2 separate regions of the Homo sapiens genome follow, and region 2 is linked to region 1. Evidence: fine-mapped expression QTL. Tissue or cell type: whole blood. Region 1 holds a variant in brackets; the other region holds the start of a gene. All regions are shown on one strand. Distances are from middle to middle.

Evidence for each region. PIP is the estimated chance that this variant, and not a neighbour inherited with it, causes the effect.
Region 2: it holds the start of CLCN3, and the variant in region 1 is fine-mapped to the expression of CLCN3 in whole blood (INTERVAL, PIP 0.91).

The regions. Positions count from the first base shown.
Region 1 is chr4:169,647,626-169,658,989 of GRCh38, forward strand. The region is part of intron 2 of CLCN3 (chloride voltage-gated channel 3); the gene reads left to right. Among named protein-coding and RNA genes, the nearest start is that of CLCN3, 33 kb to the left of the region's middle. The variant C/CA (reference allele first, on the strand shown) is at 6,015.
Region 2 is chr4:169,615,404-169,626,767 of GRCh38, forward strand. CLCN3 (chloride voltage-gated channel 3) reads left to right here and starts at 5,175. Exons shown (of 13, transcript NM_001829.4): 1 at 5,175-5,660. RefSeq lists enhancers at 4,353-4,422, 4,983-5,032, 5,103-5,332, 5,523-5,632.

The DNA.
Region 1 (11,364 bases):
AAATAATGTAGCATGAATTATAACTCAAAGTATAAAATAATCCCATATATATGATATAAAGGATATAAGTTGACATAAAGGATTGAATAAATATGAGGCAAAAGAGACAAATCTCCCATCAAATAATTTATGTACCCATTCCATTCTATGGAGGAGAAGCTCAATTCCTACCTCCCTTGAGGGTGGACTGGACTTAGTGACTTACTTCCAAAGAATAGAGTAGGGAAAAACCTGGAAAACACTATCTTAGCCAAATAGTGAACATTAATATCACCAGAGATAAATCATAGATATCATGTACTCTTGATATGTGACAAGAAGAGCATGTCACCTTTGTGATAGTGTTTCCAAAGACCCATAATCCTAGTCTAATCATAAGAAAAGCAACTGATGAGCTTAGACTGAATGACATTTTACAGGATACCTGACTAGTCAAGATCATGAAAACTAGGAAAGACTGAAAAACTAAGACCGAAGGAGTTCAGGGAGACAAGATAGCTAAATGCAATGTGGATCCTGTATTGGGACCTGGAATAGAAAGAGGACACTCATGGAAAAGGTGCTGAAATCTATGTAAAGTCTGGAGTTTACTTAATATACAAATGTCAAGTTTCTTAGTTTTGACAAATGTATCATGGAAATGTAACGTGTTAACAATTGGGGAAACTATGAATGAGAGGTATTTGGGACATCTCTGTACTATCATTGCAACTTTCATAAATCTAAAATTATTCCAAAATGAAGTTTATTTTTAAAAATGGACTGGAGTTAACTTTTAAATAATAAAAGCAAAATGTGCTTATTGTAGAAAATATAAATGATGAAAAATATAAGGTAGAAAATGAAAACTACCCATAATCCTACCACCCAGAGATAACTGATTATTTGGATATGTCTTTTTCTAGACTTAATTCTATGTGTATTTCACTCAGCAAATAATTATTAGACTCCTTTGTGGACCAGACATCTTGGTAGGTGCTAATGATAGAGCAGTGAAGAAGAATGATGTGTCCTTCTCTTATGGAGCTTATACTCTAGTGATAGAGGGTACTATTAAACAATCTCACAAAAAAAGTTACAACTGTGATACGATAAGGGCTGTAAAGAAGTATGAATGTCAGCCAGGCACAGTGGCTTATGCCTATAATCCCAGCACTTTGGGAAGCCAAGATAGATGGATCACTTAAAGCCAGGAGTTCGAGACCAGCCCAGGCAATGTGACTAAACCCTGTCTCTACTAAAAATACAAAAGTTAGCCAGGTGTGGTGGTGCACACCTGTAATCCCAGCTACTCGGGAGACTGAGGCACGAGAGTCGCTTGAATCCAGGAGGCAGAGGTTGCAGTAAGCTGAGATGGTGCCACTGTATTCCAGCCTGGGTGATAAAGGGAGAATATCTAAAAAAAAAAAAAAAAGTATGAATGTGAGAACATATAAGTGGGGAAATCAAAATTGAATATGTATTATTTAAGATGAGAACTGAAAAACGAATACAAGTCAGGCATGTGAAAGAAGGAAGCAGGGCATTGGAGGTGCTAGGAGCTTGTACAGGTGCAGTTGCAGGCAGAGGGAAGGAACTTGGAGCGTTAGAGGTAAAATGTCTGGAGTGCAGAGAATGATAACTAGAAAGCGAGGGACTGAGGCTGAAGACGTAGCTAAGCAAGGTCTAAATAATACATGTAAAGTTTTTGGTACTTTTCCCCAAGAGTGGTGGGAAACCACTGAAGATTTTTGAATCAAGGGAATCATACGAACTTTGTAATTTAAGAAGATCATTCAGAGGCCATGTGGGCAAATGGACTGTTAGGTGGTGAGAGTATGGAGGTAAATATAATAGTTCAGAAAAGAAATTATAGTGTCTAGGACTATAGGTAGTGATAGAGAGTAGAGAGATTCAAAATAGATTTAGGAGTAAAATCAGCCAGATATACTGATTGTTTTGATGTAGAATGAGGGAGTATAAGGATAAATGTTCTGTATTTCTAGCACATGCAGTTGGTAGTGCCATTTATAAGGCAGAGAGTTTTTAATATATAAAACACTGCCTTATGGTGCAAGAGCTTAATCATTTTTAATGGTTGCATAATAATCAGATACACAAATGTATTTTCAGTTCCCAGAAATAAAACATCTGTTAATGTGTAGTGAATATGATGTTTTGAAAATTAGTGGTGAAAGGCTGGGCGCGGTGGCTCATGCCTATAATCCCAGCACTTTGGGAGGCCGAAGCGGGCAGATTGCTTGAGCCCAAGAGCTTGAGACCAGTCTGGGCAACATGGCAAGGCCTTGTCTCTACAAAAAATATAAAAATTAGCTGGGGCATGGTGGTGCACGACTGTAGTCCCAGCTACTTGGGAGGCTGGGACGTGACCATTACTGGAGCCTGGGAAGTTAAGGCTGCAGTGAGCCATGATCATGCCACTGGACTCCATCCAGCCTGGGTGACAGAGCGAGACCCTATCTAAGAGAAAAAAAAAATGAGTGGTGGAATTGTTGCTAAAGATAGTCTGAGTGCTGATAAAACAGTTGAGTTGGTTCTTTCTGTGACTAAGAATAATGAAGCTCTTTGTTTGATATTAACTGCTGGTAGAAAACATTAATAAAACAATCCAAGAAAGGTGTTTTAGGAAACACAGTATTCTCGTATGTAGATTTATAAGCACAGAAAAATTTCCAACAGTATAAAGTTGTGGTATAGCTCCAAGAAAAGTATTCTTAGTTAGAAGAATTTGGCTTTGCTACAGAGTTTCAAAGGTTATGTGTGCGCATATTGTCTTCAGTAGATGACAAGTTGATTTTAGTTTTATTGTTTTATCTGGCATTTTCCAATAACATTGGTAGTATTCTAATGAGTAAGACATTTGACTCTAAAGTCAAATTTGACAACATATATTCTTAAGCCAGTTTAGAAAGTATAGAATGGTGGTTACATTGTAAATCTTTGGCAGAGTTTTTGTAAGAAATTCTTAAATGAAGTTAACATATCACTGCTACCATTTAATGTCTGTCTGTTGGGAAAAGGTCAGAGCTCTTTTAAATGCTCTACTCTGAATTATTTTTAGAAATAAACAAATAATTCTAAAGTTCATCTGATATTTATTCTAAGCAGGGTCATGTTCTTAATACATTTGACACTTCACATTCTGTTGCCAACTACTTTGTAAACATTTCTACACCTGTGTCTCCAGACTGCTTCAGCCAGAGCAACTTAGTTAACCTATTATACTTATATGAGGGAGTAGGAGACTGCCCAAATTTGTGCGTTTATATAAGAGTAAGGTAATGCATTTAGGGAAGACAAACTCATACTAGGTTTATGAAATGCTGTAATTCAGGATGTTACTAATGAACTAGGAAAGAAGTTGGTATTAATAATAAACTGGTGCCTTGATAAAATTAGCCTAAGATGCCAGTGGAAAGTCAATCAAGTACTGGATAGATATCATCAGAAAGGTCATTGGAAAGAAATCAGCTTAATTTTATAATATACAGAAACTGGTGGTTTATACCTCACTTACCACCTTAATTATTGTCATTGCATTGCAAAAAAAATTTTTCTTCTTAAAAAAATTTCAAAGAAAGTTAACTAAAATGATTACCTCTTCACTCTACCTTTCTCACCCTAATATCATGATGCGACAAATTAACTTTTCTTCTGTGCATGTAGAATATTACCTATGAACTGTCCTTGGGAGAATTGAGAAAATTTTCAAGCTTCATGTTTTGTGTTGTGGTTCTGGTTAAGAATTTCAGTTGAAAAGGGCTGGAGGAGTTATGTGCTAAACCTGTAAAATCATAAGCTGAAGCAAATATAGTCATTTCTTGGTATTTGTGAGAGTTTGGCTCCAGGAGCCCCTCAGGTACCAAAATGCATGGATTTTCAAGTCCCCTATATAAAATGACATAGTATTTGCATATCACCTACACACATCCTCTTATATGCTTTAAATTGTCTGTAGATTACTTATGATACCTGATAAAATGTAAATGTGTAAATAGTTGTGCTACTGTATTGCTCAGGGAATCATGACAAGAAGAAGAAGCCTGTTCATGTTCAGTACAGAACAACCATCCATTTTTTTCCTAAATATTTTCAAGCCATAGTTGGTTGAATCCACATATGTGGAAACCACAGATGTAGAATCCCTGGATACAGAAGATTGATTATACATAAAATAATAAGTCTATGGACCTATTTTACACAGTTCTGAAATACAGAGGAAATTCCTTGGAAAAACCAGCACCTTAGAACACATTGAAGTCAGTTTAGATGCTTATGAAATTTGTTACCTACAACTGATTGAGACTGTAAATAAGATTAAACTAGAAGGGTTTAGGTAGGGAAAAAAAGAAGAAATCCACATTAGATATTAATAGAATTAGAGATACTTAGGATATGTTTTTAACTTAAAGACTTTTGAATTGTGACATAACACATCAGAAAATGCATAAAACGTAATTGTGTAGTTTAATTAGTTATTACAAAGCAAGCATCTTTGTAGCCCACTGAGGTTAAGACAATAAAGCATAACCATATTCCAGAAGCCTCCTGTGTACGTTCCTAATCACAACCCTTCCTTTCCCTCTGAAGGTAAATACTATTTTCTCTTTGTCTAATCACTTTCTTGCTTTACTTTGTGGTTTGCTCATCTAGGTATGCATCCTTAAGAATATAATTCATTCAAGCCAGAAATGGTGTGTTGAAAAAAGAAGTATATAATTTAGGATTGCCTGTTTTTGAAAGTTAAGTAAATGGAATCATATAGTGTATATGTCTTTGTTTCTTGGTTTCACACAATGTGGCTTTCAAGAATCAGGCATGTTGTTGCAGGTAGTAGCTGTGTGGTTGCTCTAAACTATTATATATCATTTTTTAAAAAATGAATTTACTACAGTTTACCTATTCATTTTACTTTTGATGGATCTTGAAGCTCCTAACAGGTTTTGGTGGTTACTAACAATGCTACTTTGAATATTATGCATGTACTTGTGTGGTACTTAGGTCCTTAGGTGCACAAATTTTATTTGTCCTGGATGTGAACTTGTTGGGTCATAGGTCATGTTTTCCCCAGTAGTGTTTCAGTATACATTCAGACCAAGAATGTATGAGAGCTTCCATTGCTTCATGTTCACTAACCACTTGATATTGTCACACTTTTAATTTTGTCAGTGTGCTAGCTATGTATGGATTTTGATTGTGGTTTAAATTTGCATTTTCTTTGTAGTCAAAGAGATGTAGCATCTTTTCATGTCTATTTGGAAATCCTTTTCAGAGTACCAGTTTGGGTCATTTACTCATTTTTCTATTGGAGTGTCTATCTTACAGATTTGTAGAAGTTCTTTATTTTCTAGACACAAACTTTTTGTTGGATAAATGTGTTACAGCTATCTTCTATGGAGTGCATTTCACTCTTCTAATGGACAAATTATGAACAAATATTCTTAGTTGTAATGTGGTCCTATGTGTTAATCTTTTGCTTTATGGCCAAGGCTTTTTGTGTCTTAATTTTAAAAAACGTCCCTACCCTGATGTTATGAAGACATTTTTCTATATTATTTTGTAAGAGCTTTGCCGTTTACATTTAGTTGTGTAGTCATCTGATTTGTATATGTGTGTGTGTGTGTATGTGTTAGAGTGTATTCATTTTTTTCTCATATAGATAGTGTGTTAGTCTGTTTTGCATTGCTGTAAAGGAATACTTGAGGCCGGACAATTTATAAAGAAAAGAGGTTGGCTGGGTGCGGTGGCTCAAGCCTGTAATCCCTGCACTTTGGGAGGCCCATGTGGGTGGATCACCTGAGGTCAAGAATTAGAAACCAGCCTGGCCAATATGATAAAACCCTGTCTCTACTAAAAATACAAAAAATTAGTCAGGCGTGGTGGTGGGCGCCTGTAATCCCACCTACTCAGGAGGCTGAGGCAGGAGAATCACTTGAACCCGGAGGGTGGAGGTTGCAGTGAGCCTAGATCATGCCACCGCATTCCAGGCTGGGTGACAGAGTGAGACTCCGTCT[C/CA]AAAAAAAAAAAAAAAAAAAAAGGAAAGAAAAGAGGTCGTGCAGGCTGTATAGGAAGCATAGTGCTGGCATTTGCTTCTGTCTGGTGAGGGCCTCAGGAAGCTTCCAATCATGATAGAAGCTGAAGTGGAAGCAGGCGTGTCACATGGTGAGAGAGGCAGCATGAGAGAGATGCCAGGCTCCTTTAAACAACCAGCTTTGTTGTGAACTAACAGAGCAAGAACTCACTCATTATCATGGTGAGGGCACCAAGCCATTCATGAAGGGTCCACCTCCATGAAACAAACACCCACTAAGCCCACTTCTAACACTGGAAATCGCATTTCAACATGAGATTTGGAGGGGACAAAACAACCAAACCATATCAGATAGCCAGTTGTCCCAACATCAATTACTAGAAAACAATTTTTTACCCACTCTTGTACAGTGCCACCTCTGATACATATATGAAGGGCTCATTATATATAGGAGGGCCTATTTCTAGACTCCCCATTTTGTACTATTGGTTTTTCATCCTGATAATGGTTGTGTGTCTTTTTCTTCTCTTTTTCCCAATTCTTCTCCGTCTCCTTTCCTTTCTCCTATTCCCTCCTCTCCTTCCCTCCTCCTTTCCCTTCTTCCTCTCTCTTGTTCTCCTTTCTCTCCCCTTGCCCTCCCCCATCTTAATCTGTGTCACTGTAGATTTATCAATAGTTAGTTTTTCCAATGAATTGGTTTGCCTTTTTTGTTCTTTTCTATTATGTATTTCTTTTCTGTTTCATTAATTTCTGATCTTCTACTTTCTTTGAGTTTATTTTGATGAGTTTTTTTTCTAATTTCTTGAACTGGATGGTTAGCTCCTCAGTTAACTTGCCTTTAAGTGCATTTAAAGCTATAAATTTTTTTTCAGATACTGTTTTATTTCTATGCCATATGCCTTTTTTATTATCACTATTTAAAAATCATTTTTAACGTTTATAATGAGTCTACTTTGGGCTATAGGTTATTTAGAAGTTCAGTTTATAATTTCCAACACATGAGGAATTTCTGGCTGTTTTTAATTATTTATAACATTATTGCATCGCGGTCCGGGAATATGCATTATGTAATTACAGTGTGTTGAAATTTTTTGCAACTTGCATTGTGGCCCAGAAAAAAAGTCAACTTTTGTAAATGTTCCATGTATGCTATAAGAATACATAATGTGAAGTTTTCAGTTATGGTGTTCTCTCCATGTCCATTAGGTAAAGTTTGTTAATCTATGAAAATACTCTGTTTCTTTACTGATTATTCTCCTTGTTTGTTTCTATTAAGTATTTTAAAAATTTTCACTGTATTTGCACATTTATCTACTGCTTCTTGTCATTCTGTCAATTTTTGCTTTATATACTTTGATCTTATGTTATTAGGTTATATCTTCCTGGTGAATTGAACCACTTTTATTTTTTAAATAACTCTATTTCTAATTATAGTTTTTTATCTTACAATCTACTTTGATATTAATATAACTCCCAATATTCTTTGGATTAGAGTTTGCATATTATACTGTTTTTATCCTCTTTACTTTCAGTCTTTCTGCATCTGTTTGTTTTGTTGAAACTCTTGAACTGTATAGTTGAACTTTCAAATCCAATTAGGTAGCATTTATTTTCTAATTGGAACATTTAGTTTGGTTCCACTTAAGGTAAATAGTGGCATATTTGGATTTAAATATTTCTAAAATTTAGAACTCTTAAAATCTTTTTTTGCTTAGTCTTTATATTAGCTTATGTTCATGCCTGAATATTTGAGAAACTCCTTCAAAAGGAATTGTTTAGGCATTAAAACAGGTTTGCCGGTTTTGGTTCTGATTTTGAAAAATTGATCATCGTGTGATGTTTTTTGTTTTTGTTTCTAAGATGGGGTCTTGCTCTATTGCCCAGGCCAAAGTGCAGTAGTGCAATCATGACTCATTGCAGCCTTGACCTCCAGGGCCCAAGTGATCCTCCTACTTCAGCCTCCTGCGTAGCTAGGACCGCAGGCATGTGCCACTATGTCCAGCTCATTTTTATAAATTTTTTGTAGAGACGGGAATCTGGGAATCTCCCTATGTTACCCAGTCTGGTCTTGAACTCCTGGCTTCAAGTGATCCTCCTGCCTCAGCCTCCAGAGTGCAGGGATTATAGGCATGAGCCGCCATGCCTGGGCCAATTGTGTGATGTCTGTGAAAGCAAACTCTTCATATTTTTATTCCTGTGATATGTTATTTGGGTAACCGGATAGCTATATTGGAAACTAAAACTTCTTATGTTTATGAGGTATGAATATTATAAAACCATTTTGTTTTTTCCATTTATTTTCTGGCTTGTCAGTTTTAAGAATTTCCACCTCTTCTTTCTTTAGGGCTTCAATAACTTTACAACTAATTGTGTAGTTTATTGATTGTCCCCCAGAAAAGCTTTGCTGTATCTTTTTTTTTTTTCTCTGATGCATTTTGATTCGGAGAATGACTGACAATGCAAGTTAAGGTTTAGTGCCATATAGTGTGTCCAAATGTAAACTTAAAGCAGCCTGTATTAGTCCCTTCTCATGATGCTATAAAGAAATACGTGAGACTGGGTAATTTATAAAGAAAAGAGATGTAATTGGCTCACAGTTCTGCACGCTGTACGCGAAGCATAGCGTCTTCTGGGGAGGCCTCAGGAAACTTACATTCATGGCGGAAGATGAAGGAGAAGCTAGCATGTCTTACATGGCCAGAGCAAAAGCAAGGAGGGCAGTGAGGGAGGTGCTACACACTTTTAAAGAACCAGATCTCATGAGTACTCTATAATGAGATAGCACCAAGTGGATGGTGCTAAACCTTTCATGTAGGCTCCACACCATGATCCAGTTACCTCCCTCCAGGCCCCGCCTCCAACATTGGGGATTACAATGCAACATGAGATTTGGGTGAGGATACAGATCCAAACCATATTACAACCATACTGATGGATTGTAAACTACAGTTTTTAACCTGCTTCTATTAATTAGAGGGGTAAAGGTTGTAATTTTTTATTAATGTTTATCTCATGTAAGTGGTTTTATTTATAAGCATTCTTTTAAAAATCTTTTTGGCTTGGTGCAGTGGACAGTGTTGGGTGGGCCTGGACAACGTTGTAAGACCTATCTCTACAAAAAAAGAAATTAAAAAATTAGCCAGGCATGGTGGCACACACGTGTGTATTCCCTGCTATTGGGGAGGCTGAGGTGAGAGGATCACTTGAGCTAGGGGGTCGAAGCTTCAGTGAGCTATGATCATGCCACTGTACTACAGCCTGGACGTTGGAGTGAGACCCTGTCTCTAAAATAATAAATACAAATAAAAAATCTTTTCATTATGGAAGAAATTTTAAAACATGGAAACATATGGAGAAGAATATTGTGTACCTTTTCATCCTGGTCACTTACTTTAATTAATTATCAATTCATAGCCAATTTTGTTTCATTTCTACTCCCTCAATTATGTTGTAATCTGAAACATTGTGTCATTTATATAGGTAGGTAGATATACATGTATATTGTGTATTTCTAAAAGATTAAGATTCTTTTAAAGGTCATTATTTTAAAATATGAATAATTCCTTAAAATCAAATATCTTGTGTTTCCCATTTCCCCAATTGTTTCTTAAAAAATTGTATTGCTGTATCTTTTAAGTCTTTTTAAAAAAAATTCTGTAGGTTTCCCTCTCTCCCTTTTTCCTTACTAAATTGTATTTGTTGAAGAAAACAGGTCATTTGTTTCCTAGTTTGGTTTTTTCCTGATTACATTTTTGAGCTATAATTTAACATGTTTCTCTGCTCCTGTATTTTCTATAAGTTGGTAGATTTAAAGGCAAAAAATTGTTTAAAATTTATTTTTATTGTTTTAAAATTTAAGTACTTCTAATATTGTAGATTTCTCAGATCATTACTGTTACAAGGGGCGGCTTAAAGGTAGAACTCTTAAAATATTATTATCATCTATTCTGCCTTCCTGGTTTGTAGATACAGAGACATCCCAGAGAGGTTGTGATTTATCCAGATTTCCACATCAAGTTGAGATTACAGTGGAGGGTGCGTTCGAAAGTAAAAATAACTTCTCCTTTTGAATTTTGATGGCTTCATGTGTGCTACTTGTGATTTTGGTTCTTTAGAATTCATCCTGAGCATTTTTCCAGAGCTATGCCTAGGAATTCTTGAATTTGTCTTCTGCTCTCTCTCTATCTGGGCTCCACCCTGACTGTAATTCAGTTTGTTAATATGGTAATAAAAAGTCTCTATCAAAGTCCTCTTATGTGTCAAAGTCCTCTTTTGCCACATCTTCCAGTCTACCTTGTGCTTTTCTAAATTGTGATTGGACTTAACCTGTGTACTGATTCTTTTACTTTAAGAAAGTGGCAGTTGTGGACCCCATAAACACAAGAGATGTGTTTACTTCTGAAGTTTTAAAGATTTTTAGGTTTATTATTACAAAAGTAATATATTTGTTTAAACAGTGTGGAATTATATAAACACTGAATGTACTCCTCAACCTCTCTACCTTATGTCTCAGTGATAACAATTGCTAAGGGCTTGATGTGTTTTATTCTAAACTTAATTCTATACAAATATAATTATATAGATATATATTATATATACACACAATTGTTTATCTTTAAAAATAATTCAAATATGGCTACAAAACTTTTACAATATGAAGCATTGTCAGTATTTATTTTACCGGGAGGATTTCCCCCATCAGTGAGTGCTGACTGTCATTTTCATTCTTTATGATCAAGTTGTAGATCAGGAAAAACAAGTTAAGAGAGTGCCTACAAATACCGGGAAAACTTGTGGATAGATTTTCATTTTTTATGTAAAGACATATAAGAACATGAATGGTATAAAAACAAAATCCTTTATAAATGCCATACAATTATATATTTAGAAAAATTATATGGTGGTAAAACATATAAAAGAACCACACACTCCCAAATTTACATTGAGCTAATTTAGTACAGTTAGCCTTTGTCAAAGCTTTCCTTGTTTAAAAAAACTATTGGCTCAGTGTGCAGGAAGGAGCATAGGAGAAAAAATTGCCAAGAATATTTGAAAAATACAGAAAATAAAGAAAAAAATCACCTACTATCCTATCAAAAATTTTAATAGCTAGAATCAGGATAAGATAGAATATTCCTGTGGCAGTAATTCTAGTCTATATTCCTTTCCTGGAACCCTGTCTCCCAAATTTCAGGTGAGATTTTATAAGAAGCTCTGTTTATCTGAGATTTAAAATATAAAAACTTGATTTAACCTATACAGTTTTTTAAAAAGACCCTAAATAAGTAAAATTTAGTACTCCACAAATTGAAGAGAATTTCTCTCTTCTCTTTA
Region 2 (11,364 bases), 32 kb before region 1:
TTCCCCTTCCTGTGTCCTTGTGTTCTCATTGTTCAATTCCCACCTATGAGTGAGAATATGCATACTTACCTACAATCTTTTGTGATTAGAGAAGGGCCTAAAATACTAAATATGAAGAAAAGCATTCTCTAAAATCCAGATCTTTTACAGACATGTAATATTCAAATCCAAGGGAGAAAAAAAAGTCAATGTCTTGGCATTTAGTACTCCATCTTGCTACATTCTAGGCGAGAAATTTTTAGTTATTTAAGCCACGTTCCTGAAAGTCTACTCTAGCCTTATGTGGTTTGAACTCACTGTTAACTCTGCATAGCTACGAGTTAAACTGTAGCAGCCTACTGAATTTCTGGATCTTAATCTGGTAGGCCCAGCTCCATATGCAAAGATAAAACATCTAGTCAGCTTTTGAGTTTCTGGCTTTCTGAATTGGGTCACCTGCCAGGGCTCACAGATGAGTCCACCACCTGAAAAGAATGATCATAATCTGTATCTAGGATGAATAAAACAAAACACTGTGCCCTTAGTTGTGTGCAGCCTGAGAAATGAGTCACTTCATGAGACTGTTTTCAGGATATGATTGGCTGAAAGAGCTTTGAGTGTATCAAGTCCTACTGAGGCAGTTTTGTGGGAAACAATCACACTAAACTGGAAGACTGTTTGCCATGTCAAAGGTCTCGAATTGTAATTAGAAGTGCAAAGCTATTTCGGATAACTTCTTGTTATTTTTGGGGAAAAGACAAAAGACAAGAAAAGGTCATTTTCACTTCTATGATGTTAGTGGAATCAGGAGGAAATTCTAGACTAGAACCATGCTACTATTTTCATAATAGAATGTTTTAATCCCTTCTATTCTCTCTCTTTCCAATGTGTCTGAAACATAAACAATAAGATCAAAGTTCTTTTTCTTTTCTTTTTATTTTTGAGACAGAGTTTCACTCTTGTCACTTAGGTTGGAGTGCAGTGGCGTGCTCTCGGCTCACTGCAACCTCCACTTCCCAGGTTCAAGCGATTCTCCTGCCTCAGCCTCCTGAGTAGCTGGAAGTACAAGCATGCACCACCACACTGGGCTAATTTTTTTTTTTTTTTTTTTTTTTTTGGAGACAGAGTCTCACTCTGTCACCAGGCTGGAGTACAGTAGAGTGATCTTGGCTCACTGCAACCTCCACCTCCCGGGTTCAAGCAATTCTCCTGCCTCAGCCTCCCGAGTAGCTGGGATTACAGGCACGTACCACCGTGCCCAGCTAATTTTTGTATTTTTAGTAGAGACGGGGTTTCGCCATGTTCGGCAGGCTGGTCTTGAACTCCTGATCTCAGGTGATCTACCCATCTCAGGCTCCCAAAGTGCTGGGATTACAGGCATGAGCCACCGCTCCTGGCAAGATCAAAGTTCTTTTTCTGAAACAACTCATAAATACATGAAGTAGAGCTATACAATCTTGTTTGGTTTTTCTGTGCAACTTTTTTTAAGTGTATTCTTTTAAGTTGTTATGGTAAGTAATCCTATTTCTAGGTTTTTTTATTTCAAGGGAAGTTCAGAGTAACTTTACTGGTCCAGGGAGCAAGATAGAAGAAACTGAGATATGATTCCCAGTGCTCTTTACTTTGCCACTTCTATAAAATAGCATCATCCAACTTGCCACTCCCAGAGAGAGAATTGCTGACAGAGGGCAAGGTTTATACCACCTCCACTCACTGGTAATGTCTATCATTTGTTTCTCTTGTTTCAATCTGCCAGGGTTCCAGATATACTAGTGAACAGGCTATCCTACACCTGGTTGTAATTGGTAAACTCTTACACTGTGAGTCAATCTTTTTGTCCTTTTTCCCTTTCCTTGAGGCCCCAAGAGTTTTGTTGGTTGGTTGGTGGCAGAAGTGTGAAGCTAATTTAAATATTGGTTGAGTATTCGTTATTAACTTAAACTCCAACCAGTCCTAGCCCAAAAATCTGATTTACAGTGGAAGAAACTGACCCTTTTCACATAACTTATTTTGCTGTGTCTCCAAATACTTCCTGTATACTGGGGGCCTTTTAAAAAATGCATACTGAGACTTGTGGTTAAAAGATGAATTTAAGCACCCTATGGTAGGCAAGATAACACCCCCTGCCCCACCGCCCCAATCCCTGGAACCAGTGAATATATCAGATTACATGGCAAGGGGGACTTATATATGATATGAGAAACATTCAGCCTTCCATTGCTGGCTTTGAAGATGGAGGAAGTGGACAATGAGCCAAGGAAGTCAAGTGACCTCTAGAAGCTGCAAAAGGCATGGAAGTGGATTCTCCCCTAGAGCCTGTAAAAGAAAACAGCCCTGCCAACACCTTGATTTTTTTTTTTTTTTTTTTTTTTTGAGACAGAGTTTTGCTCTTGTTGCCCAGGCTGGAGTGCAATGGTGCAATCTTGGCTCACCACAACCTCCACCTCCCGGGTTCAAGTGATTCTCCCGCCTCAGTCTCCCAAGTGGCTGGGATTACAGGCATGTGCCAACAAACTTGGCTAATCTTGTATTTTTAGTAGAGATGGGGTTTCTCCATGTTGGTGAGGCTGGTCTTGAACTCCCAACCTCAGGTGATCCGTCCATCTTGGCCTCCCAAAGTGCTGGGATTACAGGCGTGAGCCACCACATGTGGCACCAAGAGGTTGCCCAGCCAACATCTTGATTTTTAACCAGTGAGCCCTATGTCAGACTTTTACCCTACAGAACTCTAAGATCAAAAATTTGTACTGTTTCAAGCCACTAAATTTGTGGGAATTTGTTACAACAGCACTTGGATACTAATACAAACTCTTCTTAGGGTTCTGGGAGCAGTTATTTACGGTACAGAGATCAGGTGGGCTGTTAAATTATTTTCATATGGGAGAAAAGCCCACAGTTGGATCTGTAAACCTCCTTACTGGGAATTATCTCAGCCCTAAGAAGTTCCTTCTTAATCACTCCCACTAAAATAAGGGATGTGGTAAGAATGCCAATCAATCAGCATCCTTTCTGTAGTATTTACCACGATGGAATGAGATCAGGCTGAAAGTATTCACATTAGGGCACTTAAAATGTACCAAAGATCTGGCTATGGTGCTTACCCTGTGTTTCCTCCCACCAGTCTGTTGAACAGGAAGTTCAACATCACCAGATTCTCTGACAAAAACACCAGAGGAATTACAGAGAACGTTTTTTCCCAGATGCGATCTATTGTTTTATCACCAAGCAATCACATACCACATTGTTTAAATATATTGCCCCATATGTAACACAGTGTTTCTGACTGAGCACCTTGGATCAACTGGGAAGAGTTAAACACAGGAATGCTTAGGTCCAACATTGAAACAATTAAGACAGGATTTCTGGGAGTGGGACCTAAGCAAGGATATTTTTCTGAAGCTCCCTAGATGGCTCTGATGCAAAGTGAAGATTGAGAACTACTGGTGCGATGATTATGTATGCCAGAGACCATGACTTTAAGTTCTTATAAAGGAATAAGGTAGTACATAATAGGGATAATATTACAAAAAACCAAACGTACAAATAGACTTGTTCTTGCACACTTAAGAGAGATCCTTGGAACAATCCTCCATTAAGAAACTACGACACTACCATGAAATAATTTTTCATCCTTATAGAAAGCAGGTAAGATTGACTAATAGACCACAACTACTGTCTACATTCTCAAAATCCATGTGCCTTTCCAAAATTAGCTACGTAACTACAGTGAGAGAGAAAAAAAAATGTGAGTAAATGTCTTGTGAAAAATTCCACTTGGTTTGGAAAAATTTTTGCCTGCTTTTCCACATTTTCTAAGAAGAATCTAAAGATCTTGGCCAACAGTGTCCCAGGTAAGAGAAAATCGTGCTTGGGTATTTCCATAGTTCTACAAACTCTACCTGGATAAAAGTAATGAAAGAGGTCCTAAGAAGCTTGACCGCACTGTGATCACCACCATGGGCACTATACCAGCTCTGAAGCCCAGAACTGTCTTTGAGAATATTCAATGCTGCCCTAGAAGAAATAGGAGAACAAAACTCACGTGTTCCTAGCCTGCAAAACAGTCGGTGGAGCACGTATATGTAAAAATAGAAAAGGCTGGCAAGACCAGGTCATATTTAATATTCATGAGGCACAAGATATACAACACGCACTTAATATTCATTAATCAGTATATATTCATAATATACTAAATATACAGGAGATATTAAACGTTCACGGGTCTTAATTCTGCCACCCAGTGGAGACACTCAAAAGTGATCTCGCCAAAGAAATGCAAAACCTGTACCTGCCCACCAGGCTATTAGCATGCTACTGCTGTGGCCACCATTCTTTCACTGCATCGCCCTGCCCTGCATCGGAATATAGCACCTTGAACACGGGATCAGGTTTACTGAATTCTGTGACCCACGCTGGGAGCTCAATAAATGTTTGCTAAACGGAAATGAACCCAATTCAGACCGTGTAGAAACCCCAGATTATATCTTTTCTCCAAACATTCAATTTCCAAGCAGTATTTTTGAAAATGCGTGATGGCTAAATTCGAGTTATCCTTTTTGTATGTATGTTAGGCACACAACCGGCGATGACATACAAGGCGAGGTGACACCACTGCACTCCCAGCCCGCACGTCACCTATAAGCACAGGGGGCTTTTGGTGCTGGTTTATTTTTGAAGGCTGGTACTTCTCTTCGATCTAAGTTTTAGGAACCTGTGCTCGTCGACGGCTGCCAATACTTTTTATTTTCAAGGCTGACGCTCGCCAGAGTTTCACAAGCTGCTCCCGGACGCTGTGGTCTCTCGCTAGAGTGGATCCGAACTCTGCGTGACGCTGGGAACGGCCAGCGTCTGTTGCCTCACGAAAACATCTCCCACAAGGTGGCCGCCTCGCGCGAGGTCAGCAGCAGGGCAAACAGGGATGCGTGAGTGACTGACGTGAGCTAATCGCTAATGACAGGCTTCACAGCCCCGGCGGCCCTCAGAGCCAGGCACCTCGCACCCCTCCTCCTCCTCGAGACCCAGTCCCGGCCCGCCCACCGTTCCCACGCCGCCCAATAGGCGCCGACGCTACTCAGCGAGTGGCCGGAGGAGGAGGTGTTGGGACGGCCGGACGCTGAACGGCCGTTCACGTCAACGTAGTGACGTCACGCGTCGACGCTGGGGCGTACCTTTCGGGCTCCTGACTCCTGCCGCTTCTCTTCCCCTTCCGTGGGTCAGGGCCGGTCCGGTCCGGAACCTGCAGCCCCTTTCCCAGTGTTCTAGTTCGCCCGTGACCCGGAATAATGAGCAAGGAGGGTGTGGTGGGTTGAAAGCCATCCTACTTTACTCCCGAGTTAGAGCATGGATTCAGTTTTAGTCTTAAGGGGGAAGTGAGATTGGAGATTTTTATTTTTAATTTTGGGCAGAAGCAGGTTGACTCTAGGGATCTCCAGAGCGAGAGGATTTAACTTCATGTTGCTCCCGTGTTTGAAGGAGGACAATAAAAGTCCCACCGGGCAAAATTTTCGTAACCTCTGCGGTAGAAAACGTCAGGTATCTTTTAAATCGCGATAGTTTTCGCTGTGTCAGGCTTTCTTCGGTGGAGCTCCGAGGGTAGCTAGGTTCTAGGTTTGAAACAGATGCAGAATCCAAAGGCAGCGCAAAAAACAGCCACCGATTTTGCTATGTCTCTGAGCTGCGAGGTGAGTTGCATTGTATGAGCGAAGAGTTGTCAGCTCTCCTGTTCACAGATTTTGGGTCAACTGTGAGGCCACAGCGCTCATCTTGGTTTCTCTTACAATGTACCTACATAATGTTGAAAGGTACATCGTGAATTGGGATGCTAACCCATCCTGATTAGGTATATACCCTCAGACATTCTTTAAAATTTCACACATCTGCTTCAGGAACCGTCGAAGGACCTCTGAATAAAATGGAAGTGGGTTCCAGGAGAAGATTAACTTTAAACTTAGAGGAGTGGGTTTTACTTTCGCTAAATTTTCCCCAATTTAAAAATAATATTCAGTTTTTCTATCTTTAGATATATATGTATGTAAAATATTTTTTGTGTATATATATTTGTGGTTTGATCTTAAACTTGACCAGAAACTGCCTTAGAATCTCAGAAATTGACTTTGCATGTGGTATGCTTTGTTTGTATGGCATTTTAAAACTGCGGAGCATATAGAAGATAATTACATATGCATTGTGCATATTAGAAACTGAGATTTCTGTTTCCTTTAGAAAGAAATTCCTGTTCATGGAATTGAATCAACAGCGACCATACCTTTTACACAGATATATAATTCAAAAGTTCAGTTCTACAAACGTAAACTTTTGGAGCTATGCAGTTCAGTTACTGCAGCATCATTGTGGCTTGTATAATTGTTGAATCTTTCCAGAAATGCTTTTACTTTCATCTTTAAAGAGTTAATTTAGAAGATTTTTTTTTATGAGGTCGGTATGGAAATAACTGCGTCCCTTTGTGAGTCACTACAAAATAATATTTGTTCAGTTCAGGAGTACATATGGGAGTTAAAGTGCTTGTGTATAAATTGTTGACTTTCATCTTAAAAGGTGCTGCTGCTATTCAGTGTCTTGTTCTATAATATGGCTTTAAAAACCATGTGTGTGACCTACAGATATTTTCTCAACTTGAATATGCGTATATGGCCTCTGGTTAATACAGACAGCCACTGTTGGCAGAATTCATCACAGATTGCATACCCTTCCCACCCCTTACTCCCCTCAGCACCTCGAAAACTTTGCTGCTTTACTTGAATGATGAGTCACATTATTTTAAGAAGTCAATATGAATGTATAGTACCTACATTTTTACTTGGAAATTGTACTTCAGTATGTGTTATCAGTCATACATAGCTCATTAAGAATGTAAATATTTAAACTACTTTTGGATAGATGTGGTTCAGGGGAACAGATTTGTTGATGTTGTGGGTTTGTGTTAGTAAATTGGCTATTTTCCAGGTCATGTTAGTGGTAGGCTTTCCATTTCCTGTTGTGACATGTTGGTCATAATTTTCAGACGGCTCAGGAAGCCAGATTTGATCTCTGTGGTGGGTCTTATATCAAAGCAGTATCCTGTGGGGTTTGGCCACTATCGCTGTTTTGTAGAACTTCCAACTTAGTTTGGTAGTCAAACTTGTCAGCAGTGATCTAAAATGTATAATATTTTATAATAAGTGTTAATATTTGTTGAATGCATTCTGTGTTTTCAGGCTCTTTTCCAAGTAATTTTTGTGAATTATCTCAATTTTCACACTAACCCCACGAAGTAGGTACTTTCACTAATCCCGTTTTACATTCGTAGAAACTGAGGCACAGAAAATTTAACTAACTTGCCCTACAGTAACTGTCAGAACTGAGACTGAAGCCTGGGAGTATGATTTCAGAGTTCCTGCTCTCTGCTGCACCATAGTGTAGTTTAGAATAGTCAAAATGCTAGAGAAAAACAAGGAGGGACGTGGCTTGTAGGTTCAATTATAAAAGCAATGTAAAATTACAGAGAGTCTGGGAAACAGTGTTTTTAAAAGGAATACTCATAATCTTACTACTCTAATAAACATTTTAATTTTTTAAATATGCACATTCACATCTGTACATAAACATTGTAGCTGTGATTCATTTTGGTTCTTAAAGATAAATCTTCAGTGAAGTTTAATATGGAGATTGAACCCCACTGCCTCACTTTCATTGTTGAAATCCAGAGAGATTTGATCTGCAACTTTGACTGGAACCAAGTTAAATAAATATATTTCTTGCTATTTCTTGTGAGAAATAATCGAACAGTTTCTGTCTTTTAAAATCATGAAGACTATTTAGTTTTCAAAGTTTCTGTCTTCCACAGCAACTTTTTATTGGTTTATTGTTTTATCTTTCTTCCTTGTTATAATCTGAGTGTTATATTTGTATGTGTGTTTATTCCGTTGTCCTCTTGAAAGCCTCTAGCATTTATACCCGCTGCCCCTGAGGAATTTGGGTTTTTTTGTCTGTTTTTATTTATTTTTAATTGACAGATAATCATTGTGTATATTTATGGGGTTCAATGTGATGTTTTGATAAATGTATATTTTGTAGAAAGGTTAAATCAAGCAAATTAACACGTCCATCATATCACCTACTTGCCATTTGTTTGTGGTGAGAACGTTTAAAATTAACTTTTAGCAATTTTGAGGTATATAGTACATTATTATTAATTATAGTCACCGTGGCATGCAATAGATCTCTAAAACTTACTCCTCTAACTGAAACTTGGTATTCTTTGACTAACCTCTCTCCTTTCCTTTTTCCCCCTTCTCCCTAGCCTTTGTAGACCACCATTCTGCTCTCTGCCTCCCTGAGTTTGACTTTTTTTTTTAGATTTTACACATATGTGAGATCATGCAGTATTTGTTTTTTTGTGTCTTATTTATTTCACTTAGCATTATGTCCTCCGGGTTAATCTACGTTTTTGAAAATGACATAATTTTCTTCCTTTTAAAGGCTGTATGGTATTCCATTCTGTATATATATTACATTTTCTTTATCCATTCATCATAGATCCTTTTAGATATCTCTAATATCGACCTTAAATGCAGAAGATGAATCACTGTATTGGAAGAAAGAAAAGTAATCCTATAAAATCAGTTTAAAATTAGGTCAGTATAGCAAGGATTAGATATGTTGATTTTACTTTGGGTACTCTGAGAACTTGATTTAAACTGAACCTTGCCCAGTGCTAATGTAATCAGTAGACCACACTAATTCCTATGGTATAGTAGTGACTTTTTTTTTGAGATAGACTCTTGTTCTGTTACCCCAGCTGGAGTGTAGTGGTGCAATCTCTGCTCACTGCAACCTCTGCCTCCTGGGTTCAAGCGATTCTCATGCCTCAGCCTCTGGAGTAGCTGGGATTACAGGCACGCGCCACCACTCCTGGCTAATTTTTGTCTTTTTAGCAGAGACAAGGTTTTACCATGTTGGCCAGGCTGGTCTTGAACTCCTGACCTGAGGTGATCGACCCGCCTCGGCCACCCAAAGTGCTGGGATTACAGGCATGAGCCACCGTGCCGAGCCAATTTTTGTATTTTTAGTAGGGACAGGGTTTCACCCTGTTGGCCAGACTGGTCTCAAACTCCTGACCTCATGTGATCTGCCCACCTCGGCATCCCAAAGTGTTGGGATTACAGGCATGAGCCACTGCACTGGGCTGGAATACATACTAATTTTTAGAAAGCTATTACAGCATCCCTCTTGAGGAAAATGTATAATGTAATTTATGCTGAAGTCTACTGAAAGCTGTAGGGCCTATACAAATATAATGGCATTAATACAATAAAAACTGTGTTCATATTTATTATAATTTCTGGTACATTGTTAGCTATTCTATAAATGTTAGTAAATGAATAAGTTATGTTGAAATTCCTTTTCACATTTTTTTTTCTTTTGTTTGAGGCTCAGTCTTGCTCTTGTTGCCCAGGCTGGAGTGCAGTGGCGCGATCTCAGCTATCCTCAGTCTCTGCCTCCTGGGTTCAAGCTATTCTTCTGCCTCAGCCTCCTGAGTAGCTGGGATTACAGGTGCCCGCCACCATGCCCGGCTAATTTTTGTGCTTTTATTAGAGACGGGGTTTCCCCATGTTGGCCAGGCTGGTCTTGAACTCCTGACCCAGGTGATCTGCCCACTTCGGCCTCCCAAAGTGCTGGAATTACAGGTGTGAGCCACTGCACCTGGCCTCTTTTCACGTTTCAATCTGTGACTAGTACTTAGCACAGTTTTTACAATATTTATATGAAAATGCTCCTTACATACAAATGGCTAGCTCAGATTTTCACCTCTCTGCCATCGTTGCTCTTGAGACTTTTGTTCCATCTCTCTAGTTGCTGACATTGACAATCTTTTTCTTCTTTCACCCAGTTTATATCCACTTTTCTTTTTAGCTTAACAGAGAGTTGACTGACACACCTTTGGGAATTAGATGTGGTCCTCAGCTGTACCCAGTCAGTCTCCTTTATGGGAGAGACAAAACTTTGTTGGGAACCATGAAAAATTAGTGTGCATATCTCAGGCTGTGGATCCTTTCGCCACCCATTTCCATGGTTTTCCTATTTTTGCTCCCCTCCCCAAATTCTGGTGGCATATTGCTTAGTGTTTGCAGTTTTGGGGCTCAGGTCAGTGTAATGGAGGTAACCTTCTTTATAGTCTGACCTGGAATAGAAACTAAAGCCTCGACATATAATCCTAAAGTTGGAAAGAACACGCTGGTCTTGAGTTCTGTGAGTTGCAGGAGACTGAAATTTGTTTCTGCCAACTGTTTTCAGTTAATCAAGTTGGAACCTTAGTGGATATCTTAGATTCTTCTTTACCATTCCCTATATCTTATTAATTACCAGGTCCTCTTAAATATTTCTTCAAACTCTCTCTGCTTCTCAATATTGATGTGTCTTAGTGAGCAGGGTAAAATCACAGCCAAAGTATTTTTTAATTCTCTCACTCAACACAACAATAATTAACACAGAAGACTTCTGTGACCAGATGCTTGGGGGTTTCTCCCCCCACAGCAACCAACCAGTTAGTTCTGCAGCAGATACCAACTGGGTGCCCCCCGGTTCCAATACGGTGTACCTGGAGGTAGTGTCAGACACCACTGGTTGAGGGCAGTTCCCAAAAGACTTCCCCCACTTCCAGTGCTAATCGCAAGCCCCAGGTTATTTTGATTTTGCCTGTGCTTCTGATAACACTGGCTATAAATCAGGGATCCCATGACCCCCCCACTCCTTACGTCCTTGGGTTCAATTAATGTGCTAGAGCAGCTCACAGAACTCAGAGAAACACTTACCGGTTTATTATAAAGGATGTTCAAAGGATACAGATGAACAGATGCATAGGGGGAGATAGGGGAAAGAGCATGGAGCTTCCATGCCTTCCCATGGTGCGCCACCTTCCAGGAGCCTCCAATGTTCAGCTATCCAGAAGCTCTCTGAATCCACTCCTTTTGGGTTTTTATGGAGGCTTCATTACATAGGCACAGTCAACAACTGTGTAGAAATGTGATTGGACAAAAAGAGTATGACCTAACAGCACTAATAGACCCAGTGGGGAAACCCAGCAAGGCCTGCCTGTCCAACTTCTTCTGCCTGTCTGCAGCATTCCTTCTTCCAGGGTCTGGGGCAAGCTCCCTTCTAAAGGGAAGGTCTTATGACCCACAGTCAGACAGGCTGTGGAAGATTAGAGTTCTGCCTTGGGTTGGTGGAAAGGAGGGCAGGAAAAGGTCAGCAAGAGAAGAGATTCTGTTTTCTGAGGTTTAATGTGCCCCAACATTATACAAAAGACTGTAGTAAGGCCAGGCACAGTGGCTTACCTCTGTAATCCCATCACTTTGGAAGGCCGATGTGGGCGGATCACTTGAGGCC